Regions from separate parts of the Homo sapiens genome. Here region 2 is linked to region 1. The links come from fine-mapping of genetic effects on gene expression. Tissue or cell type: blood mononuclear cells. Region 1 holds a variant in brackets; the other region holds the start of a gene. All regions are shown on one strand. Distances are between the middles of the regions.

Region 1 (8,101 bases):
ATAATGTTTGTATTTTTAGTAGAGACGGGGTTTTACCATGTTGGCCAGGCTGGTCTCAAACTCCTGACCTCAAATGATCCACCCGCCTCAGTCCCCCAAAGTGCTGGGATTACAGGCATGAGCCACCGTGCCTGGCCCCCTCTTCTTACTAAAGATGAGCTGTTCATGCTCCATAGAGGCTAACTCCTCCATGTGTACACCAGAGCCCAGCCCCTCTCACCTACTCAGGTACATGGCTTCAGCAGCTGTCCCTCCTCATCAGTTTCCCCTTCTCCCTTATCCATTACCAATATGGTGATATTTCTTGTCTTCAAAACCCCCTCCCAGCAGGGCTTGGTGGCTCATGCCTGTCATCCTAGTACTTTGGGAGGCCTAGGTGGGCAAACCACTTGAGCCTAGGAGTTTGAGACCAGCTTAGGCAACATGGTAAAACCCCATCTCTACAAAAAGTACAAAAGATTAACCAGGTGTGGTGGCATGCACCTACAGTCCCAGCTACTTGGGAAGCTGAAGTGGGAGAATCACCTGATCCCAGGAGGTCCAGGCTGCAGTGAGTGGTGATCACACCACTGCACTCCAGCCTGGGTAAAGGGAGTGAGATCCTGTCTCAAAAACAAAAACCAAACAATTTTGGGGGTGTTCGCTTTGTAATAATTCACTGGGCTATACTTATGATTTGTGAACTTTTCTATATGTTTGTTTTACTTCAAAGTTAAAACAAAACAAACTTCCCCTTAACTCTACATTCCCCACTAGCTATCAACCCATTTTTCTGTTGCCCTTTATAAAAAAACAAACAAACCCCCTCAAAATGGCAAATAATATTTGGAGTTTGCATTAGTCAGGTAGGCTAGACTATTCTGTGTAAAAAATGGATGCCAAATGCTACAGGTTTTACACCCAAAGATCTTTTTTTATTTTTTGAGACGGAGTCTCACTCTGTCACCCAGGCTGGAGTGCAGCAGCGCCATCTCCGCTCACTGCAACCTCTGACTCCTGGGTTCAAGCGATGCTCCTCCCTCAGCCTCCCGAGCAGCTGGGATTACAGACGCCCACCACCACACCTGGCTAATTTTTGTATTTTTAGTAGAGACGGGGTTTCACTATGTTGGCCAGGCTGGTCTCAGGTGATCCTGACCTCAGGTGATCCGCCCACCTTCACGGATCCAAAGTGCTGGGAGTACAGGCATGAGCCACCGCACCCAGCCCCAAAGACCTATTTTTTGCTCACATAAAATCTACTGTGGGACTGGTAGCAATTCAGAGTAGCTCCCTTCCAAGCAGTGATTCAGGAATCCAAGCCACTAGCACCCTATAGAAGCCATTCGGAACACATGCCTTCCACATCACCTGGCAAGGGAAGACAGAGATGGAGGATCATGTACCAGCTCTTAAATACTTCGTAGCTCACATTGGCCAGAACCAGTGATGTGGCCAGAGGGACTGGGAAATATATGGAGCTCACGGATATCTGGAAAGCAGGAATTGTCTCTGCCGTAGCCTCTCCATTTCTCCCATTCTCTCTAAACCAGTTCTGAACAGAATCTCACCTCCATTACTCCATCAACACTGCTCCCATCAAGGTCACCAACGACCTCCAGGATCATCTTACTTCACCCATAAACAATAGATAATTTGGTTATTTCCTCTCTCTTGAAACATTTTCTCCTCTTTTATGGCATACCACTCCTTTCTTGGCTCTCTTCTGACCTCATGGACTACTCCTTCTGAGTCCTTTTTGCAGTTCTTACTGTAAAGGGGCACAGAATTCAGTCTTTGGACCTCTTCTCTGTCTTCACTCAATCCCTTGGTGATCTCATTTGGTCTCATAGTTTTAAATTCCCTCTACATATTAATACTTTTTTTTAATCTCCAGCCCCAATATCTTTTCTGACTTAAAGAGGCACACACATTTAACTGTCTACTTCATGTTATCTCAAGGTTATATGCCTCAAACTGAACTCCTTAAAAAGGCCATCTCCTGGCCAGGCGTGGTGGCTCTCACCTGTAATCCCAGCACTTTGGGAGGCCGAGGAGGGTGGATCACGAGGTCAGAAGTTTGAGACCAGCCTGGCTAACCTGGTGAAACCCCATCTTTACTAAAAATATGAAAATTAGCTGGGTGTGGTGGCACACGCCTGTAATCCCAGCTACTCAGGAGGCTGAGGCAGGAGAATTGTTTGAATGTGGGAGGCGGAGGTTGCAGTGAGCCAAGATCGTGCCACTGCACTCTAGCCTGGGTAGCAGAGCCAGATTCTGCATCAAAAAAAAAAAAGGTCATCTCCTTAAAAAGTTGCTCCTAGCTGGGTATGGTGGCTTACACCTGTAATCCTAGCACTTTGGGAGGCCAAAGCAAGCAGATTACTTGAGCCCAGGAGTTCAAGACCAGCCTGGGCAATATGGCAAACCCTGCCTCTACAAAAATACAAAAATTAGCCAGGCGTGGTGGCACGTGTCTGTGGTCCCAGTTACTCAGGAGGCTAAGGTGGGAGGATCACAGGAACCCGGGAGGTAGAGCTTGCAATGAGCCAAGATCGTGCCACTGCACTCCAGCCTCGGCAATAAGAGTGAGACCCTGTCTCCTTTTTTTTTTCTTTTTTTGAGATGGAGTCTCGCTCTGTCGCCTGGACTGGAGTGCAGTGGCGCGATCTCAGCTCACTGCAAGCTCCACCTCCTGGGTTCATGCCATTCTCTTGTCTCAGCCTCACGAGTAGCTGGGACTACAGACGCCTGCCACCACACCCGGCTAATTTTTTGTATTTTTTAGTAGAGACGAGGTTTCACCGTGTTAGCCAAGATGGTCTCAACCTCCTGACCTCATGATCCGCCTGCCTCAGCCTCCCAAAGTGCTGGGATTACAGGCCTGAGCCACCACGCCTGGCTGGTAGAGAACCTGTCTTTAAAAAGAAAAAAAGGCCGGGTGCAGTGGCTCACGCCTGTAATCCCAGCACTTTGGGAGGCTGAGGTGGGCGGATCACCAGGTCAGGATATCGAGACCACTCTGGCTAACACGGGAAACCCATCTCTACCAAAAATACAAAAAATTAGCCGGGCGTGGTAGCACTTTTTTTTTTTTTTTTTTAAGAGATGGGGTCTTGCTCTGTCACCAAGTCTGGAGTGCAGTGGCTATTCACAGGTGTAATCACCACCCCACCATGCACTACAGCCTCAAATTCCTGGGCTCAAGTGAACTTCCTGCCTCAGCCTCCCGAGTAGCAGGGACTACAGGCACTTACCACTTCTCCCAGAGTTTTCACCATCTCAGTAAAAGACAATTTCATGGCTGGGCATAGTGGCTCATGCCTGTAATCCCAGCACTTTGGGAGGCCGAGGTGGGTGGATCACCTGAAGTCAGGAGTTCAAGACCAGCCTGGCCAACATGGTGAAACCCCATCTCTACTAAAAATACAAAATTAGCCAAGTGTGGTGGTGCATGCCTGTAATCCCAGCTACTTGGGAGGCTGAGGCAGGAGAATCACTTGAACCCATGAGGCAGAGGTTGCAGTGAGCCACGATCACGCCATTGCACTCCAGCCTGGGCAATAAGAGCAAAGCTCTGTCTCAAAAAAAAAAAAAGAAAGAAAGAAAGACGGCCGGGAGCAGTGGCTCACGCCTATAATCCCAGCACTTTGGGAGGCCGAGGTGGGCAGATCACAAGGTCAGGAGATCGAAACCATCCTGGCTAACACAGTGAAACCCCGTCTCTATTAAAAATAAAAAAATTAGCCAGGTGTGGTGGCATATGCCTGTAATCCCAGCTACCCCGGGAGGCTGAGGCAGGAGAATCGCTTGAACCTGGGAGGCAGAGTTGAGATCGCACCACCGCACTCCAGCTTGAACCCAGGAGGCGGAGGTTGAGATCGTGCCACCACACTCCACCCTGGGTGACAGAGCGAGACTCTGTAAAGGGAGGAAGGAAGGAAGGAAGGAGGGAAGGAGGGAGGGAGAGAAGGAAGGAGGGAGGGAGGGAGGGAGGGAAAGAAGGAGGGAAGGAAGGAGGGAAGGAAGGAAAGAAGGAAGGAAGCAAGGAAGGGGAAGGAGGGAAAGGAAGGAAAGGAAGAAAGGAAGGAAAAGAAGAAAGGAAAGAAGCCAGGAAAGAAGGAAAGAACGAAAGAAAAAAAGACAATTTCTTTTTTTTTTTTTTGAGACAGTCTTGCTCTGTTGCCCAGGCTGGAGTGCAATGGCGCGATCTCAGCTCACCGCAACAGTGCGATCTCAGCTCCACCTCCTGGGTTCAGGCAATTCTCGTGCCTCAGCCTCCTAAGTAGCTGGGACTACAGGCGTGTGCCACCACACAGGCTAATTTTTGTATTTTTAGTAGAGACAGGGTTTCACCATGTTAGCCAGGCTGGTCTCAAACCCCTGACCTGGTGATCCGCCTGCCTTGGCCTCCCAAAGTGCTGGGATTACAGGTGTGAGCCACCACACCTGGCCAAGAAAGACAATCTCATCCTTTCAGTTGTTTGGTGAAAAACCGTGGAGTCAGCCGGGCACGGTTTCTCACACTTTGTAATCCCAGCACTTTGGGAGGCCGAGGCAGGCAGATCATGAGGTCAGGCGATCGAGACCATGCTGGCTAACACGGTGAAACCCCATCTCTATGAAAAATACAAAAAATTAGCCGGGTGTGGTGGCGCATGCCTGTAATTCCAGCTACCCCGGGAGGCTGAGGCAGGAGAATCCCTTGAACCCGGGAGGTGGAGGTTGAGATCGCGCCACCGCACTCCACCCTGGGTGACACAGCGAGACTCTGGGAGGGAAGGAAGGGAGGGAGGGAGGGAGGGAAGGGAGGAAGGAAGGAAGGGGAAGGAGGGGAAGGAGGGAAAGGAAGGAAAGGAAGAAAGGAAGGAAAGAAAGAAAGAAAGGAAGGGAAGAACGAAAGAAAGACAAGCTCTTTTTTTTTTTTTTTTGA[G/A]ACAGTCTTGCTCTGTTGCCTAGGCTGGAGTGCAACAGCGCAATCTCAGCTCCACCTCCCAGGTTCAAGCGATTCTCATGCCTCAGCCTCCCGAGTAGCTGGGACTACAGGCGTGTGCCACCACATTGGCTAATTTTTGTATTTTTAGTAGAGACAGGGTTTCACCATGTTGGCCAGGCTAGTCTCAAACCCCTGACCTTGTGATCTGCCCACCTTGGCCTCCCAAAGTGCTGGGATTACAGGTGTGAGCCACCTCACCTGGCCAAGAAAGACAATCTCATTCTTTCAGTTGTTTGGTGAAAAACCTTGGAGTCGGCCGGGCACGGTTTCTCACACCTGTAATCCCAGCACTTTGGGAGGCCGACGCAGGCAGATCATGAGGTCAGGAGATCGAGACCTTGCTGGCTAACACGGTGAAACCCTGTCTCTACTAAAAATACAAAAAATTAGCCGGGCATGGTGGCACGTGCCTGTAGTTCCAGCTACTCAGGAAGCTGAGACAGGAGAATTGCTTGAACTGGAGAGGCAGAGGTTGCAGTGAGCCAAAATCGTGTCGTTGTACTCCAGGCTGGGTGGCAGAGCGAGACTCTGTCTCATAGGAAAAAAAAAAAACAAAAAACCTTGGAGTCATCCCTTACGCCTCTCTTTTTTTCCCCACACCTCATATACCAAACCATCAGCAAATCCTGTTAGCTCTATTTCAGAATACAGGCACATCCAGCAAAATGTCTCTAGTTAACATTTTCACCATAGAATGCCTTTTTGTTTTTAATATCCAGCTTGGTTGTCAGCCTTCAAGATGGTCTCTAGTAATCCTCAACTCCTGCTATGCGACTTTGCATACTCCCTTTCCACACTGAGCAGGGCTGACCTATGCAACCAATAGGACACTGTGTAAATAACAATGTGTGGCTGGGGACAGTGGCTTATGCCTGTAATCCCAGCACTTTGGGAGGCCAGGATGGGCTGATCACTTGAGGTCAGGAGTTTGAGACCAGCCTGGACAACATGGTGAAACCCCATCTCTACTAAAAATACAAAAATTACCTAGGTGTCATGACGGGCGCCTGTAATCCCAACTGCTTGGGAGGCTAAGGTATGAGAATCACTTGAACCCGGGGGGAGGCAGAGGTTGCAGTGAGCTGAGATCGCACTGCTGCACTCCAGCTTGGGTGCCAGAGCAGACCCTGTCTCAAAAAAAAATGAAAAAACAATGTGTGACTTCTGAGGCTAGGTCATAAAAGACATTGTGGCTTCTGCCTTGTTCTCTTGGATCATTCCCTCTAGGGAAAGCCATCAGCCATGTTGTAAGGACATGTAAGCAGCTCTATGGAGAGAACTTCATGGCAAGGGACTGAGACCTCCTGTGAACAGCCAGTACCAACTTGCTAGTCATGAGTGAGTCATCTCGGAAGCAGATCATCTAGGCCCAGTCAAACCTTCAGATGACTTCAACGTAATAAGAGACCCTGAGCTTGAGCCATCCAGCTAAGCCACTCCCAAATTCTTGACCCACAAGAACTGTATGAGATAATAAATATTGTTGTTTTAAGCTGCTAAGTTTTGGCATAATTTGTTACACAGCAATAGTTAACTAATATACCAAACTTATGTTGATTCAGCTTATGTTTATTTATTTATCTATTGAGACAGGGTCTCACTCTGCCACCCAGGCCGAAGTGCAATAGTGTGATCATGGTTCACTGTAGCCTCAACCTCCCAGGCCCAAGTGATCCTCCCACCTCAGCCTCCCAAGTAGCTGGGACCACAGGCATGTGCCACCATGCCTGGCTAATTTTTTAATTTTTTGTAGAGACAGGGTCTCCTTATGTTGCCCAAGCTGCTCTCAAACTCCTTGACTCAAGTGATCTGCCTGCCTCAGCCTCTCAAAGTACTGGGATTACAGGTGTGAGCCACCACACCTGGCCCAGTGTATGTTTATACAGAAAATATGTATATTTACATCATTAAAATCTTATCTATATTTTTAACAAAGTAATGTGCATTTAAAGCTTCAAATTATATTCCAAATAGAACTGATAGAAAATTACTGAGTGCCAGCCTGGCTGACATAGTGAGACCCTGTCTCTACAAAATAAAAAATCAGCTGGGTGGGGCAGCTCATGCCTGTAGTCCCACCTACTTAAGAGGCTGAGGTGGGAGGATCGCTTGAGTACAGGAGGTCAAGGCTGCAGTGAGCCGTGATTGTGCCACTGTACTCCAGCCTGGGCAACACAGCAAGACCCTGTCTCAATCAATCAATCAATGGAAAATATATTAAGTTGAAGATTTCACACAGAATGTCCAATTTTCATGAAACAGATTACTGATGTTAAGTGGGAAATGCCTATATCCAGAATCTGACCACTTGTCACCTCCACAGCTACCACTGTGGTCAAAGCCACCAGTGTCTCTCTAGGAGATTGTTGCAGTAATCTCCTATCTAGTCTCCCCTCTTTTGCCCTTGTCCCTGCATAATCTGTGCTTCTTACAGCAAAGTGATTCTCTTGATACAGAACTCAGGTCATGCAGTTCCTCTGCTCACAACTCTGTAATGGTCCCACCTTACTCAGTGAGAAAGCCAATTTCCTCACAGTGGTGCACAAGGCCCCACTCAACATAACTCCTTCCCCATTACTTCTTTGACCTCATCTCTTATCCTTTTTCCCCACTAACTGTGATTCAGCCCAGCCATAGTGGCCTCCTGGCTTTCCTTAAGCCTCCTGGGCACTCTTTAACTTTAGAACTTTGCCGTTGCTGAACTTTCCCCCTGCACCCCACTTCACCTACTCCATTGCCTGGGCTAGTTATCTATGTGACTCAGTCCCTCACTCCCTTCAGGTTGCTGCTCAAGCATTACCTTATCAATATCCCTGCTCCTTACCCCTCTTGCCCTGCTTTATTTCTCTGGATTGAAGGTTACCCTGTGACCTACCACAAATTTCAGTATGGCTTTAAGCCACATGCGGGAGGAGTTCTATTTTTTTTGAGACAGAATCTCACTCTGTCACCCAGGCTGGAGTGCAGTGATGCAATCACAGCTAACTGTAGCCCTGGCCTCTCAGGCTCAAATGATCCTTCCACCTCAGCCTCCTGAGTACCTGAGACTACAGGCACGTGCCACCACGCCTGGCTAATTTTTTAATTTTTATTTTTGTAGAGATGGGGTCTCAGTATGTTGTCCAGGCT
Region 2 (8,101 bases), 750 kb before region 1:
AGGACAGCAGGCCTTCCTCTCTTCCTGAGAATAGGGCCTGTGGCACATGGCATGAAAGGCTGGTGTGCACGTGATCACAAGTGGTGCACGCAAGCCCAAGCGCACATGGAGTCTGGGGGCTCCAGTATACCACTGTGGGCCTGAGTATACTTGCTCAGGCAGGTGGGGGCAGGTATAGTCACTGGCCCAGCCTCAGCCCCTCAATGGAAGGAAGTCCTGCTTCCAGTCTTAACACTGCCCAGAACCCCTTTCCTTTTGCCTAGGAGTCTGGGACCTCAGTCTTTTTATCCATGCTCTTGGGCTAGTACGGGGTGGTGGTTATAGGACACAGGTCAAAATCAACCCTAGGGGTCTGTGACTTCAGTGAGAGGTCAGAGTGGTCTCCACAGCTCTGACCAAAGGTCCCATTAGTCAGAGGTTTGCAAGTCCAGGTTGGGAACCATCCTGGGAGCCCTGGTTTCATGGATGAGGTAGTGGGGGCATTTGCACTAGGGTCAGAGCCTGAGCCAGGAGGCAGAAATATTGCCACAACTCTTGGACTCTGACCCTTGCAGTGGTGCCTTATTTGGTAGTTGGGGTCAGGTGGAAGCCTATTGGCAATCACAGGAGGGTGGCGGGATGCTTCATTTAGGGACTGGGTACTAGCCCTTTTTCCTGCCCTTTTTCCAACCAGGATCCTCTGGTTGCTCTGTATTTTCCCTGCTTATACAGAGGGGTCCAGGCACTCCTAAAGACAAGTGCCTAGTCCACCCAGCAGTGCCATAGGCCTCATCTGGTGCCTCTTAGCTTCCCAGGGCCTCAGCACTAATGGTGAGGTCCTCGCTGCTTTTAAGTATAGCCAAGGTATCTAGCAGGAACTGCAAAATCTCCTGTTCCTCTGGGGTCAGTGCTTCTAGCCTTTTTTTCCTGGTGGAGAGAAAGCAAGAGTAGGGTCCCAGGGGCCAGGATCTCATGGGGTGCAGTCAGGAAGCCCCACCTTGGTGCCCCCAGTCCCCAGCTGTGGGTGAGTCCAGTCTCTGGCCGTCCATGGTTGAAGATTGACTGTTCACTTATTCAGGACCGATTCAACCAGTTACCTTCTGCAGCTTCTCCAAAGCCGGCAGTGTTGGCCTCCTGTGTGCAGGTGGGCCATGGCTGTGCAAACAGAAACCCCTTCCATGGAGAGCCAGAGCCCATCCTCCAGGGATAGCAACAGTACAGTTATATCCAGACCCCTCTCTGGTGATGTTCAGCTCAGAAGTTAGGGCAAATGGAAAACCAGGAAGGGTAGGTCCATCCTCCGGCTGTGCTGTGTCCCTTCCAGACATGAGAACTGGGGAAATGATAGAGATTAGGGATAAGGATCATGGGGGTACCTAGCTCCCTTTGGGGGTGGTAGGGCCGAACTTTTTGCCTCCTGGTGCCCAGTATGCCCTAGATGGAACTCTTTGGGAGCGCTCATCAGAGTGCAGTCTGACTTGACCTGGACTCTAGTGGCTGCTGAGCCTACAGGCACAACTGGGACCAGACAGGATGAGATGGGAGAGAACACAGGGTGATCCCAGGACCCAATCTTTGCTTTCCATTTGGCATCTTATATGGTTCTTTTTTTCCTTCTTCTTCCTTTTTTTTTTTTTTTTTTTTTTTTTTGAGACAGTCTCCTTTGTTGCCCAGGCTGGAGTGCAGTGGCGTGATCTCAGCTCACTGCAACCTCTGCCTCCCAGGTTCAAGCAATTCTCCTACCTCAGCCTCCAGAGTAGCTGGGACTACAGGCGCCTGCCATCACACCTGGCTAATTTTTGTATTTTTAGTAGAGGTGGGGTTTCACCATGTTGGCCAGGCTGGTCTCAAGCTCCTGACCTCAAATGATCCACCCACCTTGGCCTCCCAAAGTGCTGGGATTACAGGCGTGAGCCACTGTGCCTGGCCAATTTTTTGTATTTTTAGTCAAGCTGGGGTTTCACCATGTTGGCCAGGCTGGTCTTGAACTCCTGACCTCAGGTGATCTGCCCACCTCAGCCTCCCAAAGTGCTAGTATTACACGTGTGAGCCACCTGCCCCTCCAGCCTTATATGGTTCTCAGTGGATCCTGGACCCAGCTCTATCTGAGCAGAGAGATGTGATGGAGCTTTAGATGTGAATGAAGGCAGTGGCCTGGGAGGGACTGCCCCAAGAGGAAATATGTGTGCCAGGGAGAAAAGCCAGGGTTGAATCTTGAGGAGCCAATTCCTGGTGATGGAGAAGAAGCAGAGCCTGCAAAAGATTCTAGGCCAGGCGCGGTGACTCATGCCTGTAATTCCAGCACTTTGGGAGGCCAAGGCGGACGGATCCCGCAGTCAAGAGATGGAGACCATCCTGGCCAACATGGTGAAACCCCATGTCTACTAAAAATACAAAAAATTAGCTGGGCATGGTGGCACGTGCCTGTAGTCCCAGCTACTCGGGAGGCTGAGGCAGGAGAATCATTTGAAACCACCGGAAGGCGGAGGTGGCAGTAAGCTGAGATCACGCCACTGCACCCTAGCCTGGGCAACAAGAGTGAAACTCCGTTTCAAAAAAAAGATTTTGAGAGGTGGGCTGGGCGCGGTGGCTCATGCCTGTAATCCCAGCACTTTGGGAGGCTGAGGTGGGCGGATCACGAGGTCAGGAGATCGAGACCATCCTGGCTAACACGGTGAAACTCCATCTCTACTAGAAATACAAAAAAAAAAAAATTAGCCGGGCATGGTGGCGGGCCCCTGTAGTCCCAGCTACTCGGGAGGCTTAGACAGGAGAATGGCATGAACCTGGGAGGCGGAGCTTGCAGTGAGTGGAGATGGCACCACTGCACTCCAGCCTGAGTGACAGAGCAAGACTCCGTCTCAAAAAAAAAATAAATAGATAAAAAATAAAGATTCTCAGAGGCAGGACAAACAGCAGGAGGGAGTTGAGGTCACAAGGGGCAAAACTTTGAAGATGCTAGCAAGATTTAGTTAAGGACCACAGGCACATATAGTTTTAGCTATATGGTATTTCATGATGACTTTTCCAAGAACAATTTTTGGGGAGGAGTGGCAGCACATTGAGGTGACAAGTAACAAGGAGGTGGAGCCTGTGAGGACAGATGGCTTCAAGAGTTTGACTGGAGTGGAGGAAGGGGAGACTAGAGAGACTTGGGGTGTTGGGAGGTATCTAAAGGCAAGTGGCTTGTAAGTGTTTAATTGCTGGAAAGGAGGAGGAGGGAGCTTGGAAAGGGAACAGTAGCAAATGTGAAGGGGGCTGCAGAGCAGTGTGAGCCTCTTGGAAGCCTATTGGCAATCACAAGAGGGTGGAAACAGTGCCCCAAGTGAGGGCACTGAGGAGCAAGTCCAAGGTGAAGTGGGACAAGGAGGATTGAGGCCTTCAAGTCAGGGTCTGTGCAGTCTGTAACCAGCCTTGGCACCACCATTTCTGTGCAGGCCGACTGAATCCAACTGACAGTCCCTGAAAAGAGCAAAGGCTCTCTTCTCCGGTCATGCGGGAGGGTCTACCCATAGACTTCTGGGAAGGCCAGATGTGAGGGAGGCCAGGGAGTTAATAGGTAATGCCCCCAAACAGCTCTCAACCCATGACTAATGGAGATTTGAGAATGAGTATCTCAGCTCCCCTTGTTCTTGGGGGCAGCAATGATGTAAGGCCTATGTTCTACGCTGGCTCCCAGAATCCCCAGCAGGATTTGGTCCCAATGGCCCACAGTGGTAGCTTGCTTGATGACACTTCCTTTATTGGCTGCTTTCCTTGTCTCCTTGCCACTGCTGGTGTTTCTTGGCCTCACCTCCCATACTAACTATATGCATGTATATCTTTGTCCAGGTCTGCTTTGGGGGAAACTAAGATAAGCACTGTCCATGAAAGGGGGACAAGGCAGTGAGCAGACACAGACAACTGCAAGGACCTCTTCCCACAGGTACCACTGACCTGTACAAATGGGCCCTCAGCTTGAAGACTTAGCTAATACTCTGAATGCTCAGAAGATAGGCAGGGCCAAGGTCTGGGCCTGAGGTAGGTGGGCCCCTGTCACACTAGTTTGCTCTTGCTTGACCCCAGAATTGGTTAGAGGCAAGCTCAGGATACTAAAAATTGATAGTTATAATGTGCCTTGGGTCCCAGAGTAGCCCAGGTCTCTCAGGCCCTACAGGATGAGGCCAGAGTGACCCACTGGGAGGTCCCCTGGCCTCTGACTCTTCCAGCACATTCTCTGCTCAGTATCACTCCTTCCAGGAATTCTCCCCACCCAGGTTTGTAGAAGGGCCAGTGCCTTCTGTTCCTCCACCCCCGCTAGCCTCAGTGTACACTGTAAGACCTATTCCTGCTTTATGCCCAGGTAAGGGCGCCCCAGGCTGCCCCCACACGACAGAGGCCCAGGCCATGTCCCCAGTGGCCTCCAGGGGGCGCCGCCGGGAAGCCTGTAATTGGGCTCCTGGGAGCTCCGCGGAGGTGGGCAGGCGCCGGCCCCTCAAGCCCTCGGGTTCGGCTGGCCTGCTCGACACAGCCTGCGCACCCAGGCTGGGTCGGGCTCAGAACTGCCCCTTGCCATACACGTGTTGTGTCGCTCGCCGCTGCCTCATTTCTACTCTTGCCCGAGGTCGGACGCTAAATTCTGTCAGGCCCAGTGTCCAAGTGTCCGTTTATCTGTCCGTTTGCATATGACCGTAGATCGGCACGCCCTGCTCCAGCTGCGGCATGTGCAGGGTTAAGGCGAGAGGAGGTTTCCCTGAGTCGGAGGGGGAGGGGGGCGAGGGGCGGACCTGGCCCAGCCCCGCCCCGCGCCGGAGCAGTGCCGGAGCCCCGCCAGAGCCCGACTTCAGCCCCAGCCAGATCCCGCGTCAACGGAGGCGGAACGGCGGACCCCGTACCCTGGCAGCATCGGAGCACCGGCGGGTGAGTCCCGCGGGAACCGCGCTCAGGGGAAGTTTGGGGCGCGGGGTGTAGAACCCCAAGCGCGTTAGCCCAGACCCGCCCCCCACATCCTTGAGCTGGAAGTTTGGGGCCAAGAGGCCCTCCTGCCAGGGGTCCAGGAGTGTAGCCACCAAGAGAAAGGGGTGGCTGGAGAACTTGGGGATCTCCTGCGAGGGAACCCAGAAGTCCAGCTGCCCATTCCTGGTGGAAACGCCCTGGACTCAGACCCTGGAGTCCTGTGGTCATGAGATTTCTCCAACGGCCCCCCGCCCCAACCCCACTTCTGGACACCAGGGAATCTGGCTTCTGGGGGGGTTTGGAATGGGCAAACTCCTGAGGGGGGACCTCGAGAGGAGAGTGTGGAACCCTGGTGTTTAGTCCTCCCCCTAGTCTGAAACACACCCTGACTCTGGTCTTTTACTAGTGGGAATGGTTTAAATTAACCCTGTGGAATGGCCCCCAGGATGTTGTAAGGATACTCTGGAGTCTGACCCCTGACAGCAGGCGTGGGGACCCCCAGGCTGCCCAGGGCACCCTGGAAGCCAGTAAGGACTCCCCTCATGCAGGACCAGCGTGAGGCTTGTTGAGGGGAAAGGAAGGGTCCTGGATGGAGAGTCCTGTTCTAGTCACCTTACTACTGCCCTCCTAGACCCAGATTTGACCCAGTTGCTGAGTGGTTTGGGTAGTGGGTGAGAAGGAGAATCCTTCATGCCTCCATGGGAAAGGGGAAAGGCTCCTGGGTACCTGGGGCCTGCCCTCCTTCCCACTCCAGGAGGGCCTCCACAGTGGTGTGCTAGCCAGAGGGGTTGGGTTCTCCCCCTGCCTTTCCCACCAGTGATTTTGGGCCAGCCCTGCCCTTAGCTACAGGCTGCTTATTTGTTTCCTGAGGGGCCGGTCAGTGCCCTGACCCCTGTTTTCCCTCTTTCCTCCAGGTGAAGGCAAGGTCCCTGGACTGGTCATATACCTCTTGTGGCCCTGGCAGAATCAAGATGAGGCCCTGTCATGCCTCCCCAGTGAGGCCTACAGTCTGAGCAGACAGCATGGCCTGCCACTGGCAGTGAACACCATGTCTGCAGGAGGTGGCCGGGCCTTTGCTTGGCAAGTGTTCCCCCCCATGCCCACTTGCCGGGTCTATGGCACAGTGGCACACCAAGATGGGCACCTGCTGGTGTTGGGGGGTTGTGGCCGGGCTGGACTGCCCCTGGACACTGCTGAGACACTGGACATGGCCTCGCACACATGGCTGGCACTGGCACCCCTGCCCACTGCCCGGGCTGGTGCAGCTGCGGTAGTTCTGGGCAAGCAGGTGCTAGTGGTGGGTGGTGTGGATGAGGTCCAGAGCCCGGTAGCTGCTGTAGAGGCCTTCCTGATGGATGAGGGCCGCTGGGAGCGTCGGGCCACCCTCCCTCAAGCAGCCATGGGGGTTGCAACTGTGGAGAGAGGTGAGTGGCCTCCCAAGGAAGGCACTTCAGGTACCCTAACACCTTTTATTATTTCCTGACTTAGTCCCTTACCCTCAGAGACTGAACAAGAGCTGTAATTTTTACATGGGTGCCCAGGATGTGGCCTTGTCCCCTGTATCCTTTCCAACCTAGATTTGAGCTGCTGCCTTCTATTAACTGCCTTTTCTGGCTAAGGTGGGAGGCAGAGCCCAAGCCGATCCCAGGATGATGGGAGACCCCAGCCATGTTCCTGCCCCACTCCTCATTTCTAAGAGATGGGGGTGGGATGGCCTAATGACTCCCAGGGTTATAAATAGTCTGGGGTGGGGGAGAGGAGTAGGGCCTTGGCTCAGAGCCTGTGCTTAGACTTCCTGCCCCACCCCCAACCCTTCCCACACGCCAGGGAGCCTGATATGGACAAAGGCCAAGCTGATCTGGGATGGTTGCCATGGAAGCCCCCAGCTGACTGGCCCATTACCCTAAGGCCCCCAGACATGTCGTAGCTGACTCTGAGGGTTTAACAGAGGGCAAGAACCTACTATAATGAAAGAGTGTCACACAGAGGTGCTGGCAGGGATCCTGGGGCAGAAGGCTTGTGGACAGTATCTTTACCCAGCAGACCCAAGCCATTCCTCTCCCAGCCCCATCTCCAACTCCAGCTGGTCCCCAGTCCTCCTCCCCAGACTGAGCTCTGTGCTAAGCAGATCCCCATGTTTCTTACCCCTGGCTTAAGCCATCCCCCCATCTTCCTCCCCGAGGGGAGTCCCCACCTTGTGGCCTCCAGGTCTGACCACCAGCCCAGGCCAGCCCTGCTTGGATGCCAGACTCTGTTGCCATAGCATCTCCAGGGAGACAGAGTCGGATTATAATTAGATCGGCTGCCTCCTGCTCTTTACTCGGAGGGGCCCTGGCCAGAGTAGGAATCCCAGATCTCCCAGCCCCCACTGCAGGCAGGTAGTAGAGTGTCTGTTGCTGGGGAGGGATGCTATAAACACATGGGTCTCCAGCCACCCCCAGGACTTACCAGGGCAGCTGTCAGGGTGGGGTACCCTGGCAGGCTGAGGTACAATCTGAACTACTCTTTTCTATGCAGATGGTATGGTGTATGCTCTGGGGGGAATGGGCCCTGACACGGCCCCCCAGGCCCAGGTACGTGTGTATGAGCCCCGTCGGGACTGCTGGCTTTCGCTACCCTCCATGCCCACACCCTGCTATGGGGCCTCCACCTTCCTGCACGGGAACAAGATCTATGTCCTGGGTAAGGGCCTGGGGAATGTGGGAAGGGGGCTCAGAGTCTAGAAATCCTCATCCTCATAGGTTGGCTGGGATAGGGATCAGGCTCAGTCCAGGATGGCAAAACAAGAGAAGCTTTGTTGGGGTGATCCATGCCTGCTCTGAGGCTCTGACCCCTGGTGGTCTTGCTGTGGTTGGAAAACCAAACCCCAGTACCTGAGGGACTGTAGGGTGGATGATTCATGTGCAAGTGTGCACACAGCAGGATGTGGGAGGCTGAGGCAGGCAGATTAGCAACCTAGTGAGCAAGGAGCCCACCAAGCCTCCTGGGCTCCTTCCCAGGTACCCCAATTCCATTGACAGGGGGCCGCCAGGGCAAGCTCCCGGTGACTGCTTTTGAAGCCTTTGATCTGGAGGCCCGTACATGGACCCGGCATCCAAGCCTACCCAGCCGTCGGGCCTTTGCTGGCTGCGCCATGGCTGAAGGCAGCGTCTTTAGCCTGGGTGGCCTGCAGCAGCCTGGGCCCCAC

The links. PIP is the estimated chance that this variant, and not a neighbour inherited with it, causes the effect.
Region 2: it holds the start of KLHDC8B, and the variant in region 1 is fine-mapped to the expression of KLHDC8B in blood mononuclear cells (TOPMed, PIP 0.98).

The regions. Positions count from the first base shown.
Region 1 is chr3:49,918,575-49,926,675 of GRCh38, forward strand. The region is part of intron 1 of MON1A (MON1 vesicular trafficking associated A); the gene reads right to left. Among named protein-coding and RNA genes, the nearest start is that of MON1A, 7.2 kb to the right of the region's middle. The variant G/A (reference allele first, on the strand shown) is at 4,913.
Region 2 is chr3:49,166,808-49,174,908 of GRCh38, forward strand. It overlaps KLHDC8B (kelch domain containing 8B), which reads left to right and starts at 4,791. Exons shown (of 6, transcript NM_173546.3): 1 at 4,791-4,878; 2 at 5,829-6,338; 3 at 7,432-7,596; 4 at 7,935-8,101. The coding sequence starts at 5,963. RefSeq lists silencers at 4,317-4,486, 4,707-4,806.